Linked DNA regions of Homo sapiens: region 2 is linked to region 1. Evidence: fine-mapped QTL for protein levels in blood plasma. Region 1 holds a variant in brackets. A gene starts in the other region. All regions are shown on their reverse strands.

Region 1 (8,335 bases):
AGCACTTTTCCCCAGACTCACATTCCATGCTACCACTTCCACAGTCAAAGCACTGAGGTTAATTCCTTTGAATTGCTATCTCTTCTCTTCTGCATACCATCAGCAATCATAACCATAATCATAAAAAGTCTAGACCTCAAAGAAGCAGAGGTCTTAGATAAACACATCAAGGGGCTCCAAGTTTCAATTGCCTAACAAGGGCCATGGAGGCAATGTCGATGAGTGAAGTGGTTGACCTTTCCTTTATTTCCTTTCAAAAAACATGGCTGAATATTTCTTCATATTTAAAAATTAAAGAATGTAAAAGATGGGAAAAAGCAACTGACAACTCAGCTTCGGTATCAAGAGTTAACAGAGAGTCAGGGGGACTGTGGTAAACTAGAGAGCAAATGCCCTTTCTTAACAGTGAGCTGCTATTTAGTTCAAGACCTTCACTAACCATATAGGAATGCAGGCCATGTTGTCAGATCTTTCAGTTTCTAAAGAAAAAAACAAAACAAACAAACCAAAAAAGCTAGAAATCTTATTTTACGTGAAATCCCTTAGTTCTTAAATGTTGCTTGCAAAGTTTTTAAAACACTCTACAAAACCAAACGCAAAAAAATCTGTAGGCCATATCCTGAAGCCCAGCTTTACAAATTCAATCTCATTGATCAAATCAAATGAGGTAAGCAGTATCATCCCAAGATGTCCCACCACTTGCTCAAAGCTGAAAACATAATCTAAGATCAAGGAGATGATCTCATCACCTTGTAGCACCACGTATTTACCACATGTTGATTCATTTCATCACCAAATTTACTATGGAGCTGGAGAACCCACTATGCATTAATATGCTGTTCCAGAAATTGAAACTTCACCAGTGCCCAAGACAAAAAAAGAAAGGCAAAAATTCTTGTTCTCATTAAGTTTACATTCTCGTAAGGGGAAAGAAACAATGAACATAATAAGTAAATTATGTAGTATGCAAGAAAATGATACATACTATTTTAAAAAACAGAACAGAGTAATTGAAATCAGGTGCACTAACTACATAGTCTCCTACTTTATGAAAGTTTTATTTGGGGCCAAAATCTTTTCTAAGGAGATAAGAAGCCGAATACGGCCAAACCATGTAACTGGACAAATTAACCTTGAATGTCTCAGTTTCGTTATCCATAAAATAAAGATACTGTTGCCTGATCTATGTAGCCCCAACTTACGTTGAAGACAACCATTAGCTAAATATTTGAGTGAACAAAAGTGAAAATAATAACACTATTTTAGTGGTAGAAGCATAATACTGCCTCATAAATCTTTCCAGAGATTCAGAATATACGTGTGTGTGTGTGTATGTGTGTGTGTGTATACATATACATATTTTTTTTTTGAGACAAGGTCTCACTCTGTCACCAGGTTGGAGTGCAGTGGCACCATCTCAGCTCACCACAGCCTTGACCTCCCAGGTTCAGGTGATCCCCCGACCTCTGCCTCCCGAATAGCTGGGCCTACAAGCGTGCACCACCACGCCCAGCTAATTTTTTTTATTTTTTTGTAGAGACAGGGTTTTGCAACATTGTCCAGCCTGGTCTCAAACTCCTGGCCTCAAGCAATCCTCCCACCTTGGCCTCCCAAGCTACTGGGATTAAAGACGTGAGCCACGGCACCCAGCCCAGAATACTTTGTAAACGTCCCAAGCCCTTTGATCCTTCAGAAGTAACAAGTAGCCACTAAAATCATTAACGTTTCCCTTCCATTCTGATGTTGACTGATCCAAAGGCCACAGAACTGTGGCAACCTCCATGAACTCTAGGAGAGGCTTTTACTTTTTTATACCTCTCTATTGTCTGAAAAAAAAAATTTCCTTTACTAAGAATATAAATAACTTTCACAATTAAAAAGAAAAATAAACTAAGGTCACAATGCAGTTAAGAAACAGAGCTAAACCTATGCCTGGGTCCACCTGGCTACTATACTTTCATTTCACAAAAAGATTAATAGATTTAACAGTGTAGAAACAAGATTTATAATTCCTGATTTCTTTTAGTATTTTTTTATTATAATCTGACCACATCTTGAAATCGTAAGAAGACGTCAATATACAGAAGAAATCAAGTTCTTTATATTTTCTACCCATCTTCACTCTAATTATCCAGCACTTACCATTTTCATTATGAATTTGCTTCCTAACAACTACCTGATGTCTTGTATTCTCTGTGAAGTTGCTAGTGAAGTGTTTTATTTGATTGTCCCAATTATAGGACATGATGGTTTTGAGACACCCCTCCATAGGTCTCTCATGCTTCTACATATCCTGCCATTTTGTATCAAGGCCATTTCTCAAAGTTATGTTTGCAGTGAGCAATGTGAACAGACAGATGAGGTAGTATCTTCCCCCTTGGAACAAAGAGCAAGTTCATTTACTGCATGCTATAAAAGCAGCAGATTCTCCGAGTTCAGTGTTCCTCAGCAGCAACGCAAACCCAAAGTGTGTGCAGCTCCATCTGCACGCTCCATCCTTATCACCCCTGTGGGACATGGAGGCAAGGACGAACCAACATAGGCATGCCAGTAAGCCCTAAGCATAAGAGTTTACACTATTTGGTATGTCAGGAGTAATACAGTCCTTTTTCTGTGGTACAGGAACCCCTTGTCTTCTCCCAGCATCCATGAAACTGTGGCAGGCTAACTATCACTTGAAGTAGGGTACAATCAAAACCCAGACTCAACAACATCAAATCAAGTTAAATAATCACTTATTTATTCTGAGATGTTGTTCTTGGTAAGCTTACACACCACACTTGCAAACATTCTAACCCTAACAGCATGCCTAGTTTCCTTTGTACTTTATCACTAAGGCACACAAACATATATACAGACATGAAATATCGTACTTCATACTGGGTTTCAGAAATACTTAATAAACTTCAATGGAATCTAGCTGTCACTAATTCAGTACCTCTTACTTCTAAATGAGTAGAGAGCTACATCTGGATGTGAAACTGGCATTTCCAATCCAGTCTTCTACCCTTTCACTCCCTCAGCACAGACCACTTCAGAGAAAAGAAGAGTAAGTTTTAGGCAAAGAGTCATAAAAATCCACATTAAGTCAAACTTCTCTGGGCCTGAATCTGTTTACCCACAAAGCAAGAGGGCCAGACCAGAGGGACTTGTCTCTTTTTCCAGTTACAATTCCAGTGATTCCACGTTCAGCCTATACATGGGTGGAACATTCTTTGCTGCTTCGTTCAGTGCTGGAGTAGGTTACAAAGTGTGGTCCTGCTGAACGGCTGGAGAATGAACTAGATGTCCTCTCAGGATGACTCCCGGCCCTATAATCCCATGATGTGCTTATAATGGAATTTGGCTGTCC[T/C]TATAATTAGAAATGTAGCTTGCTGGTCACACATCTGGATCAGATAAATCTGCACAAAGAGCATTTCACCAGAAGCAGAAATGCCAAGCATCCAGCAGCTGTGTCGTTACATCAGCCTTGCAAATAACAAGGAATACTATTTGTCCATAGAAAGTAAATGACTGGGTCAGGCAGGAATAAAGCTAAGTTTATTCACATTATTTGGGGACAGGAAAAAATGTTTATGAAAACATATATTGGTCAGACCTCCACATTAATGAATGAGACTGATGAGGAAAATAATTCATATACACAAAAGAATTCAAATGCCAAAACTATATCCTTATTTCCTGCCACCTTAATGATGAGTTTCTTTTTACTGAACTTTTATAAATGTAATAGGCTCCCCTGACTTGCATCTCAACATATCACACAGAATTGTGAACCTAATCCATAATTAAGTATTATCAAAGTGTCAAATGTACTCTGGGAATATTCACATCCATAGAAAATAAATGTGCTTCAAGTTAACAATTAATTTCACTCAGCCATTGTGCCCAGATAATATAAAACAAGAGGAAATTATTTTCCTTAAAAGAAATAAAAGCTCTTTTTAGTCAATTAGGTAAGCATTAACTACCTTTCACTTTGAAGCACATTTCTTAAAACCAAATGCTTAATGCACTAATCTAACTGCTCTGAAGAATAACTGCCAAAAGGTATGACGAGTGACAAACAGGTATGAATACCAAATCTGTCACCTGTTACTAACCTTACCAACAGAGCCATTCAATCTTCTAATTTATAATACTGCTCAGAATTTTATTTTCTGCATCCAAAAGTGTATTCAGCATATTATCGATCTAAGGAAAAAGAAAACTTTTCTATCAAGTCGATGCCTTATTTTGAAATGTATGTATGGAATTAATCTTAAGGTTTTATCCTGTAAAATGTAAAACTCAAAATAGAGTCACTTTATATACAACTATTATGTACCCATAATAATTAAAATTAAAATGTTAAAAACAGTCACTTTACATACAAAGCACAAATATGGAAAATCACAATATTAGCATGACTGCCCTTACTTCAAAATTCCAGGCTCATGTCAATAAGTTTTGTGCTCTGTAAAGAAAAAAAAGAGAACAAAAATCAGAGAGCTACTGAGACAAAAGAAATGCCACCGACACCAAGGTTACATTTCTGATTAATGGAGAAAACAGTGATGATTACAGAAGTAAAGTAAGACAGAAGCAAATTTCTGTAGTTGCTAAGTGGGAGAATCCAAAAGGTAATCTAACTCTCAGTTCTTACATCTGTAAACCACTAGTGCCAATCAATACCTATGATCAATCCTGAAGAGAGTACTGGGATAAAAAAGTCAACCGAATAGATGAATCTTAGGGAAAATAGAGTTACTACATCACAACTTTCAATCTCTATATATCAATTGTTAAAGTAAAATCTTAGACTAGCATGACACACTGATGGTCAGTTAATCAATTTTTAAGAGTGCATTAACTATTTCCAAACAATGGGAAACAACGTAAGCAGCTGAAGTCCTTAACTTACATGAATTCCTAAGTAAGTTACTATAAGGAAAATGAGTCCAACACTTGAAACAATCTAACAGTTGGATTCAGAGAATCTACTCTACAAGGATTTTACATGAAACACATGAGGTGCCCTTAACAGACACAGAGAGGAGATTCACCATCTAACTCCCATCTGAGGCCTGGCAGGTTTTTACTAAGTAAATATCAACTTTGAACCCATGATGGACACACATCAGTCTACCACCACCAGATTACAGGTGAGCTCTGAGCCTTTGGGCTTTATCCCAAAGTGAAACAACACTAGAAGGGCAGGTTCCATCCCTTCAAGACTAGAGTCAAAAATTCAACGATTCAGGCCTAGTACAGTGCCTCACACCTGTAATCCCAACACTTTGGGAGGCTGAGGCAGGAAGACTGCCTGAGACCAGGAGTTCAAGACCAGCCTGGGAAATATAGCAAGACCCTTCATCTCTAGAAAAAAAAAAAAATTTAAATTAGCCAGGCATGGTAATACATACTTACAGCCGTAGCTACTTGGGAGGCTGAGGCAGAAGGATCACTTGAGCCCAGGAGTTCAAGGTTGCAGTGAGCTAGTATCATGCCACTGCACCCCAGCCTGAGTGACAAAGCAAGACTCTGTCTCTTAAAAAAAAAGAAAGAAAAAATTCTAAGCTTCAGAAGATGCCTTCAAGGGTGGGAACTCCCAAGACATGGTTAATAGCAGGACCACACTCAGTTTCAAAAATCAATTCATGAAATATCCAATCTCCTTTCAAAGCCCTGGATACAAGGCAATTAATGAAACTGGGTAGTACCCCTTTTTTTTTATAATTCAGGTAACTGATTGTCATTAGCAACTAGGTCTAAGAATGCAGTATGAACATTTTGTAAGACAAACCTTATTTTTCTGTTTTGAGTTTTTCCGTAGCCCCATTTTCTTGACTGGGCATTTAACAAACTTTTTGTTTTAGGACCCTGTTTGTGATCTCAGATTTGAAGCTGAACATCTGAGATGTTACGCAGCCTCATAGGGTTTCAGTTACCAAGACTGACAGATCAACAGCTAGGTTGGCAGTGCAAAAATCCACTATCTGTTTTTGAAGAAACGGATTTTCTGCCTCCATGTTTTTCATTTCCAGGAATAATACTTCTCTCATGACAAGCAGACTTGTAAAATGAGGAGAAGCCCTTATCAGAAACCAGACTTCCTCCCTCTCCACACCCAGCACCTCTCTTTAAAAAATGTCCCAAATCCTGTCTTTATTAGAATTTGAATTTTGTCATCTTAAAGGATACTGGTGATTTCCCATATTATGGCTATACGGGAATTATCTCCCATCCCCAGTGCTAAAGTAAGACCTCAACAACAGCCAGCACAAGAATCATTGCAAGATACCTCTGTTTTGATGGCAGAAATGCCCTGGTTGCAAAATTTCTTTCCAATTATCTGAAGTCTTTTGGGTCTGTATCTGTCCAATTCACTTGCCAGTTTGTTCTTCCTGATCTCTTCTATTAAACTAGCAGAAGCATCTGGGACTGCAGCTCCCAACACAGAATCCCACCAAGGCCAAACTCCATCTTTGGAGAAAGGGAGAGACCCATTCTGGATTTAACAAGCATGAGGACCACGCAGGCTCCTGAGACTTAATACACATTTATTTTTTTTCCCCAACCAGCAGAAGATACTGAGGCCTCGTCTCACTAACATGCTACAGTTTAACAGCATGTTAAACTTTTACAGTAATGATGAATTCATATTTTTGATGTCATGTCTTCCTAATTCTGGGGAGATCATTCATTCATTTATAAATCTAGGGCCAGATCAAACTAGGTCAACCAACACTGACCTTATATAAATGTCAGTCTCTACCAAGGGCCTACTGCATACATAATTTCTATAGGGCGTGAGTTAAATTATTATCTCAAAGGTTACTAAAATACCGACCTCAGAGATTACGTGGGGAAAAGTCATCAGTGTGTTCTTTATTACCTGTATCAACAGATCGTGTAGTAAACACATTCCCGTGGCAATCATGTGATGGTCATCACCAAGAGAACTTCCTTTAGCAGGCTGCCTTGGGCAGGAACATTGAAAACTTTTACCTGAATTGCCCCTCTCATTTGAGGAATGCACCCTCAAACCAATGAGCACAAGAAAGACACCTGGGTGGCAGCGGGCAGAAAGCTATCATTAAAGTCAAAGTGTTTAGTGCAGATTGCCCTCAACCAAAGTACCACTGTTTTCTCATCTACAGCAACCTTAATGTTTCAGTATATTTGAATATCTACCCCCGATCAGCCTACTGCTCATTTCAAAGAAGCTAGGATGAAAAAGAAAAGGCAGGTTTTGTTTCACAAATGAAATTTACTATTTTCAAACAAAAGGTAAGGAATACATTCTGCAGTCACAGGCCTGGCTCCTCTACCTTCTTCTGATGCAGCGACCTACATTCCACTGGAGGTGGACATTGCAACAGCCCCTAAACCACAAGACGCCACTTACAGGTCCATAGTACAAAACAGCTATTTTCACATATTTCAAATTGAGGGAAGGGTTCATTTTAAGAATTAGTACAAAGTGTCATCTCACCTTAAAGAACAACAAGTCGAAAGAAAAGAGTTCACAGAAAAAGAGTCTAAAATATGAGCTCTGGCTGGGTGCAGTGGTTCATGCCTGTAATCCCAGCAATTTGGGAGGCCAAGGCAAGCGGATCACCTGAGGTCAGGAGTTCAAAACCAGCCTGGCCAACATGGCAAAACCCATCTCTACTAAAAGTACAAAAATTAGCAGGCCATGGTGGCGGCGGCCTGTAATCCCAGCTATTTGGGAGGCTGAGGCGGGAGAATCGCTTGATCCCAGGAGATGGAGGTTGCAGTGAGCAGAGATTGGCCCCTACACTCTAGCCTGGATGACAGAGGGAGACTCCATCTCAAAAAATAATAATAATAAATAGAAATAATTAAAAACAACAATAAAATATGAGCCCTAATTTGGATGTCTACCTAAAGTTATAATAATTAAACACATTCCACTTTTCTGTGTGCTTTATTTTGATTACTATTTTGTGTTTTGAGGCATCATTCTGCTGTAAGCCGAAAATATAATTTTTTAGGTAAATGTTAATGCCAAATACTATTCCAGTCCATCTTTGGGAATTTAAATTACTAGGCAACTTAAAAGCATTCAAGTTTTCTTTTTTGGGGGGGAAAAAGTCAAATATTTCTATAAACGGGAGCCTTTCTACATGAGACCACAGAAAAGAATTCATTAATTTTCTCTCAGACAACCACACTGGAGGCCAAAATCTTTGTTCAGGAAAGGGAGAGAGCATTCATCAATTAGGTATAGTAATGTTCTGGGGCTTTGTTTATAAGTCCGACATAAATCGCCATCTGCTAACTTGGACTAGAAAGCTTTAATTGATATTTATGTAGTTCAGAATAAAGT
Region 2 (8,335 bases), not on the chromosome of region 1:
CTCTACACACACCACTCCCTCTCCCTGCCCTCCCTGCCTCATATAACCTTCCCCCTTTCTTTTCCTTCCTTTTATGGGAAATTTTTTGTGTGTGTGTTTAGCTCCTGGGTTTAATTTAGTTGGATGGGACTGTAGTAATAACGTTTCTGTACATTTGCCCAGAGGCCTTCAGCTAATGGGTGTATTCTTTACAAGCCAATAAACAGATGAATAAAACCAGCTTGACATCTCGCATCTCTGTCTCTCTCCTCTTTCTTTGCCCTTTGCCCATCTTTCACAGACATTTTATAAAAACGAAAATTTTCCTGGGTAACTCAAACATAGATTGCCTTCATTAAGTCACTTCTACACGCGCCAGTCAGTCCCATGAGGGGCTTTCTTATTGCTGGAGAATGTGTTGTCTACCCTCAGGAGATCCAGCCTATATGGGATGGAAGTATGGATTGCTACTCAGTGAGTCAAAAAGAACCCCAGAAAATTATGGACTTGTAACTCTGGATGGCATTTGCTCGTTTCTGACCATTGGTGCTGATTTTGACTTGATGTCATTAAATGATTAATTAATGTACAATGCAACAGAGGCTGACAAAATCACCCTGAGAAAAGCAAATCTGAGGATCTCTAAGCCTGGGGATCCAAACCTGGGCTCTGAGAACAAATGGGGAACTGTAGTAGAATAAAGGGCCCGCCATAGTTGCCATGAAAAAATTAACCAACCTTGGCCAGGTGTGGTGTCTCACACCTGTAATCCCAGTACTTTGGGAGGCTGAGGGGAGCAAATCACTTGAGGTTAGGAGTTCGAGACCAGCCAGGCCAACATGGCGAAACCCCCTCTCTACTAAAAATACAAAAATTAGCCGGGCCTGGTGGCGGATGCCTGTAATCCCAGTTACTAGGGCAGGAAAATCACTTGAACCCAGAAGACGAAGGTTTCAGTGAGCCAAGTTCACGCCACTACACTCCAGCTTGGGCAACAGAGCGAGACTCTATCTCACAAAAAAAAAAAAAAAAAAAAAAAGAAACTAACCAACCTTGAAACAAACTGCATTCTCAAAAGTCTTTAAAACCCAACAATATATGGTTGTCCTGCTCTTCTGCCAGTTCCTGTCTCACTACCTCTCCTTTCCTTCTAGGATGCTACTCCCTGCCTGTTCTCTTCTTCAGCCCTGCTCTGAACATTCTGTTCCTATTTTCACTGCCCCAACTCCAGACTACCTCCTACAACCCCAGGAGAACGCCCCCTCCCACTGCCTGGGGAGGCTCTCCTAAACTATAGCCTCTAGCCAGGCCAGCACATTGAGGTCATTGCTCTCCCTGCCAAATGACTGGCCTGAGTTCAGTGTCTCCATCTGTCTGAGCTTCATGGAAAACTTGATTGTTGCTCTAGGCTCTCTATTCTATGTCCTGCCTTAGCTATGTCCTGCTTTGCATCTGCTTTTTTGTTTCTTCTCCCAACACCCTTTTCTTCCCCTGACTCTCCTCAGACTAGAATCACATCTGTTTTCTAGTCTCAGCCCCTTCACTGGGGAGCAGATGGAAGAAGAGCAAGTTCTGGGGCAGGAAGATCAGGAAGAGCTGGGCGTAGCACTCAGCTTGTTCTGCGGACTGACCAGATTCCATGTATCTTAGAGATGTAGCACTTACAGCTCCCTCGGAGGTCCCAGAGGTGCTTACAAAGTGCGATTTGCTTATTTCTGTGTCCACTGCTCTTTTTTCCTCTCAACTAGACTCCTTCCTTCCTTCTTTCCTTCTTTCCTTCCTTCCATCATACCCCCTTTTATTTTCTTCTAGTATGTAATTTATTAATACTATCTGCTCTCTGTCTACCTGTACTCTTCTCTAATTTATTTCATCAGGGAGATATATAATGTAGACTAAAGGGGAGCCAACAGGAAACCTGAAACTTACATATTTCTATGGCATACAAGGTCCACCATTCCTCAGACTTGAGTTTCTGTAATTCAAGTTTGCTCTTGAATCCAAAGCGGGAATGTTTTAGTGGTTGAACCACTAGAGTCTCTGTGAATAAGAAGAAATACAAAGCCTTTAAAATTCCTGAATCAAGGCTGAGCAACATAGCAAAATCCTGTCTCTACAAAAAAATACATCTAAATTCGCCTGGCATAGTGGCATGCACCTGTAGTCCCAGCGACTTAGGAGGCTGAGGCAGGAGGATCACTTGAGCCCAGGTCAAGCCTGCAGTGAACTGTGATCATGCCACTGTACTCCAGCCTGGGTGACAGAGCAAGACCCTATCTTAAAAAAAAGAAAAAATCCTGGATCAGAGAAAGTGTTATCTACACATTATATGATCTAAGGAAAAATATTGGTAGAAAATGAGGCAAGCATAATAACCTTGCCTTTCAATTTTCTTTGGGCATCTGATTGCATTTTATCCTTAAGAGCCCAGAAACCCAGATTCTTAGTTAAGCTCAAACAAAGCCAAAAGACAAAGTAAGGCTGGCACCCCTTTCACAGAGCTTCTCTACATTTGAAAATGATTTGGAGAGTTCTGAAAAGTTCCTCAACTTTTTATAACCCTAAGGTAGCCAGCCTTCCTCTTGGACAAAACTCATAAGGTATCTGTGTTCGCTTGGTTGTGAGAATACATAGGATATTCCAAGGGGAAAAAAAACAAGAAGAGTCTAAATGTGTAGGTCAAGAAAGAGGCAGAGATGAAAAAGAAATACAGGAATAAAAAGAAATTTGTTAGTGCTGAAGAGACGAATATTGAAAAAGAAAGTGAGAAAGAAGGATGAAGGAATGATTCAAATATGGAATATAAGGAGGCTGAGGCAGGATAATTGCTTGAACTCAGGAGGCGGAGGTTGCAGTGAGCCAAGATCACATCATTGCACTCCAGCCTGGGTGACAGGAGCAAAACTCTGTCTTAAAAAAAAAAAACAAAAAACAAAGAAGAAGAAGATAGCCAGAGAGAGAGAAACAGCATCTATAATGTGCATTAAAACACACCAAGGAGGAGACGGAACTTTTCGGTAAGAAAGAACCCAAGGAACAAAGGGGAGCTGGGACCAGATCGTGAGAGGAGGGAAAATAGGCTAATGGAAGAAAGGCAATACATGAGCTGGGGCCAACACTTCCAGGGAGCAGCAAGAGCTCTCACCAGTGTAGTCATAACATTTGGAATGAGGGTGTGAGCAACTGCAAATTCCCATCTCCCTTCTCATTCCAGCCTCATTGTAACACACATTCTACGCCTAGCCTGGCTTTCTTGCTCTCCCTCATCTCATTGTTTCAGCGGAGGCCAAATCTGAAGTCCTTTCCAGGGAGTGGCTCTGTTCATCTTATTCGCCAGCCAAAGTAGGAACAGCGTAAGAGGAGAGAGACACATTCAGCAGCCAAAGGACTCGGTGGAAAGAGCAGAACACCATAGACAGTGAGTTATTTGATTACCTGAAACCCTAAAGAGACAGAGGGAATGTGTGTATGTCTGTGTGTGTGTGAAAGGGCTGGAGGGGGCAATGGGGAATGTCACTGAACTTAGTCTTGAGCAGACCTCCCAAATAACCGTGGAATTCTGATGAAGGAGACGCCAAGATGAGCAGATGATATGAAAAAGTCACGCATATGAGAAAGGAAGATTCCACATCAGGGGTGAAAGAGGCCAAAGGGTAGGGCCAAGTACGGACCATGTAGAATGTAAAATTTCCTCTGACTTGGTAGCAGAGAATAATAAAAGCAAGAATAATGGTAAGTGACCAAGGAATAGATTTGAGGGAGAAATGAATGTTGGGTGAAAGGTAAGAAAAGAGAGAAAGGGTTTGAGTCATAAGGGAAAATGAAGAAAGTTCTGGGAAGACAAAGAGACAGGGACCTCAGAGGCATCTTTCCCTGGCACTGAAATGCTGATGTGCCTCTGAGCATCACATTCTCTGCTATGCCCACCACCCCTATAGATATGTCGCTCTTGGGACCCAAGGTGCTGCTGTTTCTTGCTGCATTCATCATCACCTCTGGTGAGTCCTTTATTCTTTGCTCCCTAAACCCTCAGCTCCTCAGCTATACACGTGTGTGGCAGGAGATGGGATGGAATGAGGTCGAAGAGGAATAGCAGTAGAGATGCTTGGTATTGAGCTCTGGAATTCCTATTAGAAGAACAGATTTTGTGTTAAGAAAAAAAGTTCAGGAATGTGACTAGACTTCAGACTAGGGGAAAGGCCTCCCAAGAATTATGAAACTAAGGTGCAACTAAGATACACACAAATGCATATTAACCACCCAAAGAGGGTCACATATGAGTAAACAAATTGCAAAGCAAAAAAGAAGCTGATATACAAATGCATACACAAACATAGAGGAGGGACTACCTAGAAAGAAACTGGACCTGGGCTGGGCATGGTGGGCTCACACCTATACTCCTAGCACTTTGGGAGACTGAGTGGAGAGGATCACTGAGACCAACCTGGGCAACATAGTGAGATGAGTTAACCTCATCTCCATTAAAAAAAAAAAGGAAAAAAGAAAAAAAGAAACTGGACCAAATGTAAATCTTGAAGAAGAACAGTGGGAATACATACACTATTACCATCATGCATGCAGGTATACTCACATGCATGCAAAAAATATATGCCATACTGACACACAAGAGAAAAGTGATCTTCACAGATTTCCCAGAATCTGGCTAGAAGACTGGCCACAGAAAGTGAACTTTAGGCTGTAAAGATGTCCTACTCTATTTTTTTCCCTCCTTCTTCCGATACAGATTGAGAAAAATAATTCTTCTGTCTTGTTCACTAGCATAGCTAGCGGGGAAGCCGTGGGGCTAGAAGGGCTGCCAGGCCTCTCAGTGGAGCTGGACTTCATTCCTGGCCAGGAATGAGGGTAAGAGGGCAGCAGGGCTTTGTTCTCAGGAACTTGTCTTTTTTTTCTTTTTACCAAACAAATGCACAGCAGTGAAGGAACTTGTCTTTCTGAAGTCTTTCTATTCCTATTGGTTTTGTTCATAGCACTAATGGTCTCAGTAATTTTATATTGAGCTATATAGGAATAAGTCACAAAGATAAAGTATAACCATTTCTCCATGATTTTCTGATTTGTCTCATAAAAGGGTTACGAGGTATAGAGCTGCAGTCACTCACATCTCTTTTCTCTTCCTTTGCTATAGACTGGATACCCCTGGGGGTCAATAGTCAACGAGGAGGTAGGTGAACCCTTGGATAGCGGCTCTGTTGGGGTTCTTATCAGGAAAATTTAGATGAACAGAGTTAAAAAATCCTTCCTGCTTATCTATCGCTGCCAAAAAAAAAAAAAAAAGAATATTTCCTACAACAAAGAGATGCATTGCCAAAGTGTGAGAAATAGGATCAACTTCACCAGTTTCCACAATCCTATTATCCCATTCATAAAAGCTTCTTGTGTGTGTGTTTTTAAACTACTGAAACACCTTCCCAAGACATCCTCTATGACCATTTCTGTTTTCATTTTTCTTTACACATCTCCTATCTTACTCAGAAAATGCTTACTAGTCCTTACAAAAAGCGTTCCTTAATTCATGTAACAGTGGAAAAATGAAAGACAGGATAAGAAGTCATCTTATACCCATAATCCCAGCACTTTGGGAGGCTGAGGCAGGAGGATCGCTTGAGCCCAGGAGTTTGAGACCAAACTGGGCAGCACAGGGAGACCTCATCTCTAGAAAAAAAAAAAATTAGCCTGGCATGGTGGCGCATGCCTGTGGTCCTAGCTACTCAGGAGGCTGAGGCATGAGAATGGCTTGAACCCAGGAGGCTGCGGTTGCAGTGAGCCATGATCATGCCATTGCACTCCAGCCTGGGCAACAGAGTGGAACTGACTAAAAAAAAAAAAAAAAAATTAGAAAAAAAGAAGTCATGTCAATCCTAGGTGAAATTGTGGCACAACTGAGCAAAACCCAAAAGGTATTTTTTGGTTTTTCAGCTTTTTAGGTAATTTTTGCTCACACCATTCTCTATAACAAAAATCCCAAAAGTTGTGACCCCTAGAGGACCACTTCCTTCGACTTCATGAAGAAAACTCCATTCTGCCTCAAGGCATTCAACATAATTATAATTTATCTCTTTATTTCTCCCATCCCAGGAGAGTTAGAGGACAGAGCGCTCCAGTAGGCAACCTATTAATGGGATCATGAAATCAATTTAGTGGGTCACAACTGGTATTAATTTTTAAAATGAATTAAGATAGACCAAAACAAATATACCGGGATGCATTGCATGTGTTTTGCAAGAGTAAAGTATTATTTCATACAACTTTAATAAAACTTCTCTTAGTTTTCCATATGTATATACCAGGGTACAGTATATTTTTCTTGCAGTGGGTCCTGGTACAGAAGATAAAAATACAAAAATTTTTTTTCTGTTGTTGGTAAAAATACCCGAATCCCCGAGTTTCTGAATCTAAATCTGAATCTAGGAAAAAAGGGCAGGAATGTGACTAGACTTCAGACTAGGGGAAAGGCCTCCCGAGATTTTAGTACCAGCAAAACTGAAAATCGGAATTCATTTTTCTGGGCTGATTAGGAACCAGTCCTGTGTTAAGACTTTAGATGCTTTTCTCGCAGACATATCATAAGGTATGATGAACTGTCTTGCCTGGTGTGGTGGCTCATGCCTGTAATACCAAGCACTTTGGGAGGTTGAGGTGGGATGATCACTTGAGGCCATGAGTTTGAGATCAGCCTGGGCAATATAGTGAGACCCTTTTATTTTTTTTTTTTTTCGAGACAGAGTTTCGCTCTTGTTACCCAGGCTGTAGTACAATTGCGCGATCTCGGCTCACTGCAACCTCCATCTCCCAAGTACAAGTGATTCTCCTGTCTCAGCCTCCTAAGTAGCTTGGATTATAGGCATGCGCCACCACAACTGGCTAATTTTTTGTATTTAGTAGAGACAGGGTTTCACCGTGTTAGTCAGGCTGGTCGCAAACTCCTGACCTCAGATGATCTGCAGGCCTCGGCCTCCCAAAGTGCTGGGATTACAGGTGTGAGCCACTGCTGCCAGCCTGAGACCCTATCTCTTAAAAAAAAAAAAAAAAAAGCCAGGTGTGGTGGTTTGCTGGTTGTCCTAGCTACTCAGAAGGCTGAGGTGAAAGGATCGCTTGAGCCCAGGAGTTCGAAGCTGCAAAGGAGCTATGATGGCACCACTGTACTGCAGCCTGGGCAACAGAGTGAGACTCTCTCAAAAAAAGAAAAGGAAAAGAAAATACGTTAATTTTTTTTTTCAGAGAGAACTTCATGAATACTAGATAAAGCATTTATATGGTGATAGCTCTTGGAACAGTTGGTTAAACTGAGGTATATGCAGAAAAGCAGTACTCTGCCCTGAAATCCCAGAGACAGCTAGGATACATTCTCAAGCCCTCTGTTCCCCCATTGCTTTGCTCCTGTTTCTGTGAGTGGCTGGACTGGAATGTAGCTAGGCCTCTAGAGAAAGGGAACCAGGAAGGATTGGGCTACACCCGGGAGAGGCTCCACTCCTCTCCTGCAGTCTCTGGAATGATTCAGGTTAGTGGTTTTTCAAATATCCTGTGGGATTGGAACAGACTTGGATTCCTTTTGTTAAAAGATTGTTCTTCCAATCAATGACATCCTACTTAAAAAAAAAAGTGTTCTGAAAGAAGAAAGCCCATAATGAGTGTGAAAGGTTAAGAGGCTTTTTTGTCAAGCCTGATGAATTTTTTTTTTGGCAGAGTCTCACTCTGTCCCAGGCTGGAGTGCAGTGGCAAGATCTCAGCTCACTGCAACCTCCGCCTCCTGAGTTCAATTCATTCTCCTGCCTCAGCCTCCTGAGTAATTGGGACTACAGGCATGCACCACCCATGCCCAGCTAATTTTTGTATTTTTAGTAGAGATGGGATTTTACCATGTTGGCCAGACTGGTCTCAAACTCCTGACCTCAAGTGATACGCATGCCTTGGCCTCCCAAAATGCTGGGATTACAGGCATGAACCATGAAGCCCAGCCAAACCTGATGAATTTCTATCTGGAATTTAGAAAACAGGATGAGGTAAGCAAGGGAAATTCCTATGAAATGCTTTATTTGTATTTCACCTTTTTTATAATTATCCATAACTCTGATATGCTTTATAAAAATATTTGTTCCCATCAGATTTACATTTGACATTTATTAATAGAATCTGAAGTTAAAAAAAGAAGTCAGGCCGGGCATGGTGGCTTATGCCTGTAATCCCAGCACTTCGGGAGGCCAAGGTGGTTGGATCACCTGAGGTCAGGAGCTCAAGACCAGCCTGGCCAACATGGTGAAACCCTGTCTCTACTAAAAATACAAAAACTAGTCGGGCATGGTGGCACATGCCTGTGTCCCAGCCACTCAGGAGGCTG

Alleles and levels. Alleles are on the strand shown, and positions count from the first base shown. The strength of an association depends on the size of the effect and on how common the allele is.
With allele C in place of T in region 1, the plasma level of the protein whose gene starts at base 3,198 in region 2 is higher (weak association).

What was found. A credible set is the group of variants that fine-mapping cannot tell apart. PIP is the posterior inclusion probability: the model's chance that the variant is causal. Protein levels are from antibody-based Olink assays in UK Biobank. Linkage for the fine-mapping came from a reference panel and not from the study's own genotypes, which makes the PIPs less certain.
Region 2: MFAP5 starts here. The variant in region 1 is the best candidate, but not a certain one, in a credible set for the plasma level of the MFAP5 protein (UK Biobank, PIP 0.89).

Annotation. Positions count from the first base shown.
Region 1 is chr3:172,077,484-172,085,818 of GRCh38, reverse strand. All of the region lies in intron 1 of FNDC3B (fibronectin type III domain containing 3B), which reads right to left. Among named protein-coding and RNA genes, the nearest start is that of FNDC3B, 42 kb to the right of the region's middle. The variant T/C (reference allele first, on the strand shown) is at 3,353.
Region 2 is chr12:8,657,689-8,666,023 of GRCh38, reverse strand. It overlaps MFAP5 (microfibril associated protein 5), which reads left to right and starts at 3,198. Exons shown (of 10, transcript NM_003480.4): 1 at 3,198-3,397; 2 at 3,918-3,977; 3 at 5,126-5,161. The coding sequence starts at 3,920.